Homo sapiens: one gene and its partners. The protein of the gene in region 1 purifies or fractionates together with the protein of each later gene. This does not show direct contact. Each region holds a gene or a part of one and is shown in the gene's direction. Other genes may lie near its edges.

Region 1 (4,120 bases):
GTCCTTTCTATCTCTGTGCCTCTCAGTTCTCAGATCTTAATTTAATTTAATTTTGTATATATTTTTGAGTTGGAGTCTCACTCTGGCGCACAGGTTGGAGTGCAGTGGCACCATCTCGGCTCACTGCAACCTCTGCCTCCTGGGTTCAAGCAATTCTGCTGCCTCCGCCTCCCAAGTAGCTGGGATTACAGGCGTACACCACTATGCCTGGCTAATTTTTGTATTTTTAGTAGAGACGGGATTTTGCCATGTTGGCTAGGCTGGTCTTGAACTTCTGACCTCAAGCGATCCACCTGCCTCAGCCTCCCAAAGTGTTGGGATTACAGGTGTGAGCCACCGTGCCCTGCCTTCCCAGACCTTAATTTTTACTGTCTGCTGAGTATGTGCTTCTGAGTGACTTTCTGACATTTCGAAGTCATATATACCAAACTAAATTATCTGTTATCCTGAATCTGTGCATTTTTCCATATTTCCTGCATCTGTTAATGGCACCAGTAACCTCCTTTACTCCAAAGTTTGAGACCTAGATATTTGATTCATTTTACATCCACATTATAATGTCTTTCCTTTTCCATTCCTGCTGCCACACCTTACGTTTAGACTTTATCTTTTGCTTAGATTTTGTTTTGACTTCCTAAGCAGTCTCTTTACCTTCAGCCTCAAGTTCTGCCTACTTTTCTTTAGGCACAGCTCTACTTATTCATCACGGCAAATATTTGTAAACTCTGAAGTTGATGTTAGGAAACGTTGAATCCTGAAAGCCCATATCATTACTCCATCTGACATTAGCAATTAAGGATTATTAAGGATCATGACTTTTAATAGTACTAAAAAGGAAACAAACTACAGTTCTCTAATCAGCAAATGCTGAGCTTTTCTCAAATATTGCTTCCTAACTGTTTCACTTCCATGGACCCCTTTTATTATTTTCCTCTATCTCCTACCTCACTATGGACCCTGTGTTCTAAAATTAAACCTAGGAGCTGGGCATGGTGGCTCACACCTACATTCCAGCACTTTGGGAGGCCAAGGTGGGAGGTTTGCTTGAACCCAGAAGTTCGAGACCAGTCTGGGCAACAAAATGAGACCCTCGAATCTTTAAAAAAAACGAAACAAAAACTAGCTGGACATGGTGGCATAAGCCTGTGGTCCCAGCTACACAGGAGGCTGAGGCAGGAGGATTCCTTGGCTTCCCAAAGTGCTGGGATTACACGTGTGAGCCACCAAGCCTGGCCTTAATTAATGTTTGTTGCATAGAGTGGCACTGATAACTTTCATTTTTCTAGACCCTATATATATATTTTTTTGTTTGTTTGTTTTTGTTTTTGAGACAGAGTCTCGCTCTGTCGCCCAGGCTGGAGTGCAGTGGCACAGTCTCGGCTCACTGCAAGCTCCGCTTCCCGGGTTCATGCCATTCTCCTGCCTCAGCCTCTGAGTAGCTGGGACTACAGGCGCCTGCCATCACGCCCGGCCAATTTTTTGTATTTTTAATAGAGACGGGGTTTAGTAGAGACGTGTTAGCCGGGATGGTCTTGATCGCCTGACCTCGTGATCCACCCGCCTCAGCCTCCCAAAGTGCTGGATTACAGGGGTGAGCCACCGTGCCCGGCGACCCTATACTTTTAATAATGCAGCCTAAAATTGAGCTTTGCTACTATTTTCTTTTTTCATCATGATAATCTACTATTGAAAGAGTTTGGTTATTTTTGGATGATATTGCATGCCTTTTACTTATATTCGCAAATTTAATCCTTTAAGATTAAGGCTTTGGGCTATGAAGGAATGGAAAACAAAAGTCCCCTAATGCACTTAGTATGAATGCCTTAATAAGATCCTTTCCTGGGCAATATATACTAGTGCAGCGTGAGGGTGGTAGAGAGAGCCAGAGGAAAGCTTGCATGGATGGTTCTGGGTATCCAGGGACAAGCATGGAAGTGCTTGAAACTCAGGGAAAGTGGGAAGGGCCTTAGGAAAACAAGGGGCATTGAAGACTATGTTTCTTATTTTGGGTACAGGCCTAGACTGAATATTCAGCCTCAAATAAAACATGAGGCTGATGTGCTGCTTTTTTTTACCTGGAATATGTCTTTGCTTTACTTCCATCAATTAAAATCCTGGCCACATGGTGTGGCTCATGCCTGTAATCCCAGCACTTTGGGAGGCCAAGGTGGGAGGATTGCTTGAGGCCAGGAGTTCTAGACTGGCCTGGGCAACATAGTGAGACCCTAGCTCTACAAAAATAAACTTAGCCAGGCATGGCAGCAGGTTCCTGTTGTCCCAACCACTCTGGAAGCTGAGGCACTGGCACTACTACATTCCAGCCTGGGTAACAGCAAGACTCTGTCTCAAAAAAAGAAAACAAAATATCTTTCCTGTGTCCAAAGTGTTTACAGTTAGGTGGGGGAAAAAAAGTATCAAAATTTTAAAGAGCATTCTGGTCAGAATGGATCCCAGTAGAGCAGTGGTTAAGAGCATGGTCTCTGGCATCAGCTATCTGGTTTGACCCTTGATCCTTATTAGCTAGTGATCTCGGGAAGATTGGCTACTTGCCCCATACCTCTTTTCTCACCTGTAAAATGGGTATAGTAATAGTACGAACCTCATAAGGATGTTGAGAGGGAAACGCAGCAATTAAAAATTTAAAAAGGAAAGGAAAAGATATAGATATACTCAAGAACAAGATAAACATCTCCAGGGACCAAGAACAGAAAAGAAACATGCAGTTAGACTCTGGGTTCAGGAGCTAGTAGAAATAACATGTAGGGGACCTAGGGTCAGATGCTCTGTATGAAACTGAAGCTGGGCTGAGACTGGATGAAAGAGGGCTGAAAACATCTGCTCTTGGCTGTTGCTTTAAAAAGCTGTGGACCTGGAGTGAAGATGCAGAAGTGGCTGAGCTGCCAGATGGCTCAGAGTCAGGAACTGTGGTTTCCCCACTATCAGCTAGTACAAGAGCACCAAGCTTGGAGGTCGTGGACTCTGGAAGAGGGGTGGCCTATCACAGAACCCCTGGGAAAAGAGGGAATGTCTGAGCCTATAAACACACGAGGAAGACCATTACTTAGAAAATTAACACAGTTACCAAGAGATAAATTCACAAAAAATCTGATGGAAATATGGGTAATTTCAAAACAATTGTAAGTATTTTAAAGATCCTTAAAAAAGATAAAAGAAATAATGGTCATAAAAAAACATGAATCAAAAATAGGTAGATATGAAATAGATGGCTATATTAAAGAAAAAATGGAATTATTGAAATTAAAAAAAAAATAGGTCAGTTGAACTCTAGACCAGACAAATTTGAAGGGAAAATTAATGAATTGGAAGAAAGTACCCAGATGTATCACAGAGAAATAAATAGGAATTAACAAATATGAGCTGGGCGTGATGGCTCATGCCGGTAATTCCAGTACTTTGGGAGGCCAAGGCGGGCAGATCACCTGAGGTTGGGAATTTGAGACCAGCCTGACCAACATGGAGAAACTCCATCTTTACTAAAAAAAAAAAAAAAAAAATACAAAATTAGCTGGATGTGGTGGTCCATGCCTATAATCCCAGCTACTCAGGAGGCTGAGGCAGGAGAATCTCTTGAACCCGGGAAGTGGAGGTTGGGGTGAGCCGAGATCGTGCCATTGCACTCCAGCCTGGGCAACAGCGCAACTCCATAAATTGAGAGGCACCAACTTACATCTAACTGGGAGTTCCAAAAAGAGGAAATAATGTGAATGGTGGAGAAGCCAGGTTGGAAGAGCTGATGGCTGAGAATTTACCAAAATTTAAGAAAGACCAGTTCTCAGCTTGAAAGGGCATTATATGTATCTAGTAAGATGGAAACAAAAATATAAACTAAAACTTCAGAGATTTTCTTGCTAATTATATTAATGTATCTATTATAGAAAGACTGAAAATTTAGACACTCCAAATTTAATAGTGGGCATCTTTAGGTGGAAGAATTATGAGGTTTAAAAAAAAACTTGTATTTTCCAATGTTTCTACACTGAACATATTAGGAATCTTGCTTTTAAGTTGGAGAGACTTGAAGTACACTGAATATATAAGTGGCCAAGTGCTGTGTGGCTAAATATTATCTTTACAGAATGGACCTCTGGGATACCAAATA
Region 2 (3,500 bases), on another chromosome or scaffold:
TAAGAACGGGGGCTTTGGAGCCAGACTAACATGGGTTCAAGTCCCAACTCTGCCCTAGGTGAGCTGTGTATCCCCCCTGAGATCACGCCACTACACTTCAGCTTGTGTGACAAAGTGAGATGGAGCAAGACTCCTTCTAAAAAAAAGAAGAAAAAGAAAGGGTGGGGAGCCCTGAAGCCATGAGGAAGGGTGCTGAGAATACTTGGGAGAACATTCCAGGCAGAGGGGCAGCGAGCTGGAGCAGGCAGGGAGTGGGCGGGGGCAGCACAGCCTGCAGGAGGGCCTCGGCTTTCTCTGCTGGCTGCTTGTGGGGCAGGATGGACCATGAGGGCCCCACTCTGCCCGGGCAGGGGGTGACCTGCAGAGGCCCCACGGTCCGTTTGACACACTGCTCCCATCTGAACATACCAAGCCCACTGCTCCGACATCCTCCCTCACTGCTAGAAGTTTTCCTGGACTCCTTGATCAGGGAAGTATAACTCAGTCTGTGTGTGAGGTTTGGGGTGATGGTCTGTGTACCCCGGGAAACTGTATGTCCACTTTGTGGGCTAGGGCAGGCCTTTTTCCTGGTTTCAGAATCACAGGTCCCCTGAATCAGTGGTTCCCACACCCGGTTGCCCATCAGAACTGCCTGGGACGCTAAAAAGCACACCCATGCCTGCCCCCACCCTGTCCTTCCACACCCATGAGCCAGAATCCTGGGGCAGGGAATCAGAGCTAGTCACTTTGCTACTAACTCAGATGCAGCTGGTCTGTGCTGCTGGGGACCCGGGAGAAAGCAGCTGCCCTCCTGGTAAGAGGGTCAGAGTGGCCCCCAGCCATCTTTCCCTCGTGGCACCTCTAGGAGAGTAGTCCAGGCAGGATGAGCTCTTTCCCCAGAGGCCATGGCTCAGCGGATGGGGGACTCAGGTCAAGACCCTTGGTAGGGTGCGGGAGGTGGTTCAGACTCCTGAGGACACGGTCATTTGCCCACAAGGGAGCCACTGGGTCCCCACAGGGAGACGCTGCTTCCAAACTAATGCTAGTTTTTGCTCTGTGATTTCCAGAGAAGTACATGGAGTTTGACCTGAACAATGAAGGCGAGATTGGTGAGTGAAGCCTTGAGTGTGTTTAGGGAGGAGGGTGTTAAGTGGGTAGAGGGCTTGAGGGACCCTCTGTGCGGGTGAGGGGCATGGGGCAGTCCGGAAGGCTGGTGAATATGTTGCGCCGAGCCAGCCCCAGCCCCTTGCCTTCTGCCCTGGCACCACTGCCCTCAGACTCCTCCAGACCCTTTGATCCCCTACTGCTTCCCTCCCCACCCACACCTCAGCCTCCCACCCCAGGTGCTACGGGGACTCAGGACAGAGGGTGCCACACCTGCCCAGGGCTGGAGACACTCAGGGTGGACAGGCCCTGGGCCTCCTGGCTGGCATTTCAGTGGCCCTGAAGTCTGTCTTTCCATTGTATGTCATTCGGCAGTTGACAAGTTGCTTTTATATACGTTGATTCTCTCCTTATTGCATCCTGCTGTGCAGCTACTGGCACTTACGTTCTGGTAGGAGACCATACCTGGACCTCACCCGCAAAGAAGTGGTTAAGGCTGGTTTAATTATCCCCATTTTACAGATGAGGAAAGCAAGACTCAGAAAGGTGAAATGGGCCGGGCGCCATGGCTCAAGCCTGTAATCCCAGCACTTTGGGAGGCCAAGGCGTGGGGATCACCTGAGGTCAGGAGTTCAAGACCAGCCTGGCCAACATGACGAAATCCCATCTCTACTAAAAATACAAAAATTAGCTGGGTGTGGTGGCGGGTGCCTGTAATCCCAGCTACTCGGGAGGCTGAGGCAGGAGAACTGCTTGAACCCAGGAGGCGGAGGTTGCAGTGAGCCAAGATTGTGCCACTGCACTCCAGCCTGGGTGACAGAGCGAGATTCTGTCTCAAAAAAAAAAAAAAAAAAAAAAAAAGCAAAAAGAAAGGTGAAATGACTTGCTTACATGGAACACTGGCAGTGAACCAGGGCCCAGCCGTTGGTTTCTGAACAGTTTCCCCCTTTTCCATTTCATCCTGCGTCTCAGATTGATGCTGCTACCGGCATTTCTACTCCTCTTCCTCTGTCCTCTCTCTTTTCTTCTCCCTTTAGAATATTTTGATCATTTTTTTTTTTCTTTAGAAAGAAAATTTGGCCAGGCACAGTGTCTCACGCCTGTAATCCCAGCACTTTGGGAGGCCAAGGCGGGCGGATCACATGAGATCAGGAGTTCGAGACCAGCCTGGGCAACATGGTGAAACCCCATCTTTACTAAAAATGCAAAAATTAGCCGGGCATGGTGGCAGATGCCTGTAATCCCAGCTACTCGGGAGGCTGAGGCAGGAGAATTGCTTTAACCCAGGAGGTGGAGGTTGCAGTGAGCCCAGATTGCACCATTGCACTCCAGCCTAGGGGACAAGAGCAAGACTTCGTCTCAAAAAAAAAAAAAAAAAATTTGGCTTATCAAATAAACACATTTTCATCATTAAAAAAATTGGGGAAACACAGCAAGACAAAAAGACAAAAATGCATCACCCACAACCCCACCTCCCAGAAGTAACTGCTACAAACATTTCCGTTTCTAGCCTTCCACTCTTTATTCTAATCACAAAAGCTGTTTTATATCATTTTTGAGCCTCCTTGAAAAAAATAACTTTCTATTGGTCAGCCCGGCCAGAAAAAATAAGTGAAATAAAACAATGGTGAGTATTTTGATTTATTATTGATTTTTCTTTCTTTTTTTGAGACATAGTCTCATTCTGTTGCCCAGGCTGGAGTGCAGTGGCACAATCTTGGCTCACTGCATCCTCAGCCTCCCAGGTTCAAGCGGTTCTCCTGCCTCAGCCTCCCAAGTAGCTGAGATTACAGGCACGCACCACCACGCCCGGCTAATTTTCGTATTTTTAGTAGAGACGAGGTTTCACCATGTTGGCCAGGCTGGACTCAAACTCCTGGCCTCAAGTGATCCGCCTGCCTCGTCGTCCCAAAGTGCTGGGATTACAGGCATGAGCCATGGCGCCAGCTGATTTTTCTTTTGAAATATAGTTAATGGCTGCATTGTAGGAATGGATTCTAATTTGTTTAGCCGATGCCTTTGTGTGGACCATTTGGATGCCTTCCAATTTTAACTATTATTGATAATCCTGTAAAGAACCTCTTTGTACATGAGTGCTTGTTCACCTCCCTGGTTATTTCTGTAGAGGAAATCTCAGGAAGGGGACACTGGGTCAAAGGCTTTTGAAGCATCTTGCCGAACTGCCCGAGAAAGGTCCTGCCAACTTCAGAGTCTGGCAGTGCGTGTGCAGCCCTTTCCCCCTTTCCTGGAGAAGGCTGCCCAGCTCTCTCTGAATGCGTGGACATCCTGGCACCTTTGGGCCTGGCCCCAGTCCCGCCCGCCTTGCCAGGAGGAGCATTGGCTGCGCCACGGCCCATGGCCCCTACCCCAGCCCTCTCCTGCCATCCTTAGATGACCCATTGTTCACTGGAGAACAA
Region 3 (3,500 bases), on another chromosome or scaffold:
GGCTGGTCTTGAACTCCTGGGCTCAAGCAATGTTCCCGCCTTGGCCTCCCAAAGTGCTGGAATTAGAAGCGTGAGCAACCGTACCTGGTCAACAGTCTCTAAAAATTTTTTTTTATGACAAGGTGTCACTATGCTGCCCATGCTGGTCTCCATCTCCTGGCCTCAAGGGATCTTGCCGCCTCAGCCTTCCAAGTAGCTGGATTACAGGCTCCAGCCACTGTGCCCAGCCAGTTTAACTCATTCTTTTTTATATATTTTTTACTTTTATCTTAATTTATTTATTTTTCTGAGACAGGGTCTTACTCTGTCACCCAGGCTGGAGTGCAGTGGCAAGATCTCAGCTCACTGCAACCTCTGCTTCCTGGGTTCAAGCGATTCTCCTGCCTCAGGCTCCCGAATAGCTGGGATTACAGGTGCCCGCTACCACACCCAGCTAATTTTTGTATTTTTGTAGAGACAGGGTTTCACCATGTTGGCCAGGATGGTCTTGATCTCTTGACCTCGTGACCTGCCCGCCTCAGCCTCCCAAAGTGCTGGGATTACAGGCTCGAACCACCGTGCCTGGCCAACTCATTCTTGTTAACAGCAAAATATCCTGTAGTGTGGATGTACCCATAATTTCTTAAAATGTTCCCCATAGACAATCAGGTTATATCTAATTTTTGCCAGTGAAAAGCATGGTGTAATACACATCTTTGCTCTTATAGCCTGAAGCTTTTAGTCTGTAGAACAGATTCCCCCAAATTGGAGAGCGAGATAAAAGATTTATGTGTCTTTAAAGTTTCAAGAGATTCTGCCTCATTACTTTCCCTAAAGGTTGAGGCAGTTCTTATCCCCACCAGTAAGGTGCCAATTTTTCTGTTGGTACAATCTTAATAACCCTGGGTGTTATTTGTTTTACATTTTGTGGGTAAATGTAAACTCACGGTAAATGTAAACACAGTACCCATGTAAACGAATGGGTAAATGTCTCATTTTAATTTTGCTTTTCCTGACAGGTCACGCAGAGCATCTTTTTTTTTTTTTGAGACGGAGTCTCCCATTGTCACCCAGGCTGGAGTGCAATGGTGCAATCTTGGCTCACTGCAACCTCCCCCTCCCGAGTTCAAGTGATTCTCCTGCCTCAGCCTCCCAAGTAGCTGGGATTACAGGTGCCTGCCACCACACCCAGCTAATTTTTGTATTTTTAGTAGAGACAGGGTTTCACCATGTTGGCCAGGCTGGTCTCAAACTCCTGACCTCAGGTGATCTGCCCACCTTGGCCTCCCAAAGTGCTGGGATTACAGTTATGAGCCACAGAGCCCAGTTGTCAACATTATTTATTAAATCAGCCACTGATTTAAATGCTTCCTTTAATCTTCAGTGCTTTTAAGGGGAAAATACATTTCTGGCTACAGGAGATGGAATGCAATAACCTAATGTCAAACAAAGCCGCCCCCTCCTTTACAGACTGCAACTCCCCTGTAGCTGAAGGTTTGCTGGTTGGTAATGGGTTTTCCGTGTGTGCTTTGTGTGTGTCTCTGTAGGCAGAAGAGCACTGATCGTACTGGCTCACTCAGAGAGGACGTCCTTCAACTATGCCATGAAGGAGGCTGCTGCAGCGGCTTTGAAGAAGAAAGGATGGGAGGTGGTGGAGTCGGACCTCTATGCCATGAACTTCAATCCCATCATTTCCAGAAAGGACATCACAGGTAGGAGGAGTTCCTCCTCCCCTCTTTAATTAGTTCTTTGCGGATCTCCTTGCCTGTGGGTCCTCTGGCCCAGCTTTGGCCCCTCTGGCCCCAGCCTCTCTTTTTCTTCTCTGCAGGTAAACTGAAGGACCCTGCGAACTTTCAGTATCCTGCCGAGTCTGTTCTGGCTTATAAAGAAGGCCATCTGAGCCCAGATATTGTGGCTGAACAAAAGAAGCTGGAAGCCGCAGACCTTGTGATATTCCAGGTATGGGGGGACATCGGAAGGGGTGTCAGGGACATTTGCGTGCTTATTGTCCTAGACATGTACCTAATTAGCTATGAGATCTTAAACAGTTACCCACTTTACTGCATTCTCTGCAAATAAGGGTGATTACTTTAAAGGTGCAGTATTACATGGATTTCACAGATATTGGGAATCTGGCTGTATTACTGTTGCATGTGTAAATGCAACTGCAAGGCCAGGCACGGTGGCTCACGCCTGTAATCCCAGCACTTTGGGAGGCCAAGGCAGGTGAATCACAAGGTCAAGAGACCAAGACCATCCTGACCAACATGGTGAAACCCTGTCTTTACTAAAAGTACAAAAATTAGCTGGGCGTGGTGGCATGTGCCTGTAGTCCCAGCTACTCTGGAGGCTGAGGCAGGAGAATCACTTGAACCCGGGAGGTGGAGGTTGAAGTGAACCAAGATTGCGCCACTGCACCCCATCCTGGTGACATGGCGACAGAGCGAGATTCTGTCTCAAAAAAAAAAAAAAAAGAAAGAAAGAAATGCAGCTGCAGAGATGATGTACAGTCCTTGAGCTTGCTTTCTTCCAGGTACTTAGTCTCCCCTTCAGTTAGCGATTCCTTCAGTTAGCGATTCCTTCAGTTAGCGAATCCTGCGGTTAGCGATTCCTGTTGGACTCTCTCAAAATTTGCAGTTCTCCTCCTTTCTCCATAAGAATCCCAAATACTTTGTAGAATAATCCATGAGACATTGACTTCTCTGCCATTGTAGCCTGCCAGCTGAAGGGGGCTTTGAAACCCTGCTGAATGTGTTCCTGCAGCAAACCACGGCCTTTCTTCTTCGGGAAGCTGCCTTACCGTTTAGCAGACAATGCTGGGATTGTGCGTGCATCTCGTCAGTGATCTTTCCTATAAATGTGACTGTACTCAATGACTTTGCTTTTACAATTCCAGCCAGTCTTTTGATATTGAACATAGAATGTATATGATCCTGGAAACCACGAGGAGGGTGGTACAGGCTGTGTTTTTTTTTTCTCTCTCTCTCTCTTTTTTTTTTTTAGTTATTCAATCAGCTACAAAACATCCAATCCTTGAAGTCCTTTATTTTACCCACAGGCCTGTTGCTAAGAATCAAAGCCACATGCCACTAGCCAGTACCCCAAAGGACGGCTTTAAAAAAAAATTAAATTGGAGACAAGGTCTCACGGTCACCCAGGATGGAGTGCAGTGGCATGATCTCTGCTCACTGCTGCCTCAACCTCCTGGGCTCAAATGATCCTCCCACCTCAGTCTCCCGAATAGCTGGGACTATCAGTGCACACCACCATGCCCTGCTAATTTTTTAATTTTTTTGTACAAATAGGGTCTCACCATGTTGCCCAGGCTGGTCTCAAACTCTTGGGCTCAAGTGATCTGCCTGCCTGGACCTCCCAAAAGGCTGGGATTATAGGCATGTGCCTTTCATATCTTTAAATCATGAATCAAGGATAAGAAAACCTCCTGGTATAGTCCTTACTCTGCTTTTATTAGGATAAGAGGTCAGACAAGACTTTCTCATGGGAAGTCCCTGATGAACCTT
Region 4 (3,500 bases), on another chromosome or scaffold:
GAATTACATTGGAAAATTTTGAATGTTACACCAAAGTGGCATAAACTACTTGGTCATGAAGTATAATTGAGCTATAATTTTCTTCTAGTGTGCTTCACAAATTTTGATATCAGCATGATGCTGGCTGGAGTCATAAAATGAGTTGGGAGTGATATCCCCTCTTCTATTTTCTGAAAGAGTTTGAGTATTATTAGTATAATTTCCTTCTTAAATGATTGATAGCATTTACCAGCGAAGCCAGGTGAATCTGAAATTTTTGTGCGAGAGAAGACTTTATTAAAAACAGTATTTCTTTAATGGTTACTTGGATTTTCCGTTTGTTCTTTTGTCTGTTTTGGTAAGTGGTACTTTTCAAGAAGTTTGTCCTTTTTATCTTGGTTGTCAACTTTATTGGCATTTTTTTTTTTTTACAATATCCTTTTAATACCTTATTATGTCTGTAGGATCTGTAGTGATCTCTCCTCTTTCATTCTTGATATTGGTAATTTGTCTTGTTTTCTTTCTGTTGTCTTGATCAACCTTGCTACAGATTGATCATTTTATTAATCTTTTCCAAAAACCAACTTTTGGCTATGTTGATTTTTCTCTATTGTCTGTCCATTTTCTATTTCATTGCTTTCTGCTCTTATTTTTGATCACTTTCTTTCTTCTAGTTATTTTAATTTTAATTCTTTTCTAGTTTACTTTATTTTTTTCTAGCTTTCTAAAATGTCTTGTTTTTAATTCTTCTTTTAGCTTCTTAAGTTGGAAACTTATATCATTTATTTCACATATCTCTTTTTCTAATGTAGGCATTTAATGCTGCAAATTTCCTTTAGCACTGTTTTAACTGCATCCCATGATTCTTGTATGTGGTATTTTTATTATTTTCAAATTCAGCATATTGTCTCATTTCCTTTGTAATTTCTTTTTTGACCATGAATTATTTAGAATTATGTTGCTTAATTTCCAAAGTATTGGGATTTTTCTAGCTATCTTATTGTTATTGCTTTCAAATTAAATTTTGTTGTAGTCAGAGATTTATTTTGTGGCTCTGCATATGGTCTATCTCAGTAAACGTTCTATGTGCTTTCTACATTGAAAAGAGTGTATATTGTTCAGTTGTAGATATAGTTTCTATAAATATCAATTAAGTCAGGCAGGTTGATAGTATCATTCAAATTTTCTACATCCTTACTGACGTTTTGTTTACTTTCTCTGTCAATTACTGAGAGTGTTAATGTCTCAAACTATGATTGTTGATTTATCCTTTGCTCCCTATAGTTCTGTCAACATTTGCTATATGCATTTTGACACTTGTTTTTAGCTCTGTTATATACATTTTTAGGATTGTTATGTCTTCTTGATGAACTGACCACTTTACCATTGTGAAATATCTCCCTTTATTTCCAGCAATGTATTTGTCTTGAAGTCTACTTTTTCTGATGTTAATATAGCTACATCACCCTTCCTATGCTTGCTGTTTTGCATGGTGTGGTGGGCAGCCTCTAAGATGGCCCCCAATAATCCTTGTGTCAGTATTTTCACCTTTGTGTAATCCCCTTCCCTAGAATATCCACTGGATTTAGTGATTCAGTACTGACAAGTTTGGTAGAATGCAGCATAGTGATGGGATATCAATTGTGATATTAAATTAAAAGGACTACAGCACCACTACACACCTATTAGATCTAGGCCAGAATCTGGAAGACTGACAACACCAAATGCTGATGAGGCTGTGGGGAAAGAGGAACTCTTATTTATTGTTCGTGGGAATTAAAAATGGTGTAGCCATTTTGGAAGACAATTCGACTATTCCTTGCAAAACTATTCAATCTAGCAGTTGCACTCCTTGGTATGTAACCCAGAAAGCTGCATGTATTACACTCCTCAGTATGTAACCCAAAAAGCTGTGGTATGTCTACACAAAAAGCTGCACACAGATGTTTATAGTAGCTATATTCATAATTGCCAAAAATTGGAAGCAACCAAGATGTCTTTCAGTAAGCGAATGAATAAATAAACTGTGGTACATTTAGACAATGGAATAATATCCAGTGCTAAAAAGAAATGAGCTATCAAGCCACGAAAAGACATGGAGGAAATGTAAATACAATTACTAATTGAAAGAAGCCAATCTTAAAAGGCTACATGTATGATTCCAACTATATGACATTCTGGAAAATGCAAAACTAGGGAAGAAGTAAAGAAGATAAGTGGTTGCTAGGGGTCGGGGAGGGAGAGATAAATAGGTGGAGTATAGAGGATTTTTTAGAGCAGTGAGACTACTCTGTACAGTACTATAATGGTGGACACATGTCATTATATATTTGTCCAAATCCATGGAATGTACAATACCAAGAGTGAATCTTAACGTAGATTACAGACTTTGGGTGATAATGGTATGCCAATGTAGGCCTTCTGCTTGATTTTGCGGTGAACCTAATATTGCTGTAAAAAACAAAATCAATTTTTAAAAAATGACAGCTTTTTATTGGGTATTCTGTCTCTATCTCACTCTCTTGTCCTGGGGAGTGAGCTTGGAACCAAATTTCCCCCAGTTGAACCAGAAAAAACAGAGAAATAAGTGTTTGTCATTTTTAGCTGCTAAATTTTGGGGATAATTTATCCTGCAGTTACATATAACTAATATACATGATATATCTACATATCTTTTTCTACCCTTCTGTTTTCAGATTATGTTTTCTCTTTTTAATCCAGACTGACAATTTCTGCCTCTAACTGGATTGTTTAGTCCATTTACATTTAATGTAATTACTAATATTACAGGGTTGAATTTAAATCTACCATCTTGGTATATGATTTCTATCTGTCCCATCTGATTGTTGTTCACCTGTGTCTTTCTTCCTGTTTTCCCTTGGTGAATGCAGTAATTTTTAGTATTCCATTTAGTATAAGTGTACATATTTTTAGTATTTATTTTTTATCTCCCCTGTTAACCTCTTCTGTGTCTTGTGTGAGTTTGTGTGGTTTTTCTAGGAATTGCAATATGCATCCTTGACATATCTATTGTCTCATGAAGGATGTAAGATATTCCAAAAGTGTAATTTCCTTAACCGACTTTCCTGGCCCTTATGTTCTTGTCATGTATTTTATTTCTATGTATAACACTATAATACATATATTGTTATTAGTTTTGCTTTAGTTAGTAGTGATTTTATTTATTTTTATTGTCTTATTTTTAATTTTGATTTTTAAAATAAAATTTACCATCTTTACTATGTTTAAGTGTTAGTTGAATAGTGTTAAGTATAGTCACATAAGTCAGTATACAGTTTTAAACAATGTATATAACAATATATATTAAACATAGGAATTTTGGACTGAATGTTTTTATCCCTCCCTCCCAATTTCTGTGTTGAAATCCTAACCCCCTTATGATGGTATTAAGAGGTCGGGGCTTTGAAAGGTCATTAGGTCATGGAGGTGGAGACTTCATGAATGGGATTAGTGCCCTTATAAAAGGAACCCCATAGAGCTCTCTAGCTCTCCTTCTGCCA

What was found. Proteins that work in one complex are often made in the same cells at the same time.
Region 2: the proteins of ADK (region 1) and AIF1L fractionate together in Homo sapiens (co-fractionation; one large-scale study listed by BioGRID). This does not show direct contact.
Region 3: the proteins of ADK (region 1) and NQO1 fractionate together in Homo sapiens (co-fractionation; one large-scale study listed by BioGRID). This does not show direct contact.
Region 4: the proteins of ADK (region 1) and NNMT fractionate together in Homo sapiens (co-fractionation; one large-scale study listed by BioGRID). This does not show direct contact.

Annotation. Positions count from the first base shown.
Region 1 is NC_000010.11:74,154,221-74,158,340, forward strand, and holds part of ADK (adenosine kinase), read left to right. Parts: intron 1-4,120. UniProt on the Homo sapiens protein: Catalyzes the phosphorylation of the purine nucleoside adenosine at the 5' position in an ATP-dependent manner. Serves as a potential regulator of concentrations of extracellular adenosine and intracellular adenine nucleotides.
Region 2 is NC_000009.12:131,113,531-131,117,030, forward strand, and holds part of AIF1L (allograft inflammatory factor 1-like), read left to right. Parts: intron 1-1,046; coding exon 1,047-1,088; intron 1,089-3,500. UniProt on the Homo sapiens protein: Actin-binding protein that promotes actin bundling. May neither bind calcium nor depend on calcium for function.
Region 3 is NC_000016.10:69,716,561-69,720,060, reverse strand, and holds part of NQO1 (NAD(P)H dehydrogenase [quinone] 1), read left to right. Parts: intron 1-1,526; coding exon 1,527-1,691; intron 1,692-1,807; coding exon 1,808-1,938; intron 1,939-3,500. UniProt on the Homo sapiens protein: Flavin-containing quinone reductase that catalyzes two-electron reduction of quinones to hydroquinones using either NADH or NADPH as electron donors.
Region 4 is NC_000011.10:114,299,399-114,302,898, forward strand, and holds part of NNMT (nicotinamide N-methyltransferase), read left to right. Parts: intron 1-3,500. UniProt on the Homo sapiens protein: Catalyzes the N-methylation of nicotinamide using the universal methyl donor S-adenosyl-L-methionine to form N1-methylnicotinamide and S-adenosyl-L-homocysteine, a predominant nicotinamide/vitamin B3 clearance pathway.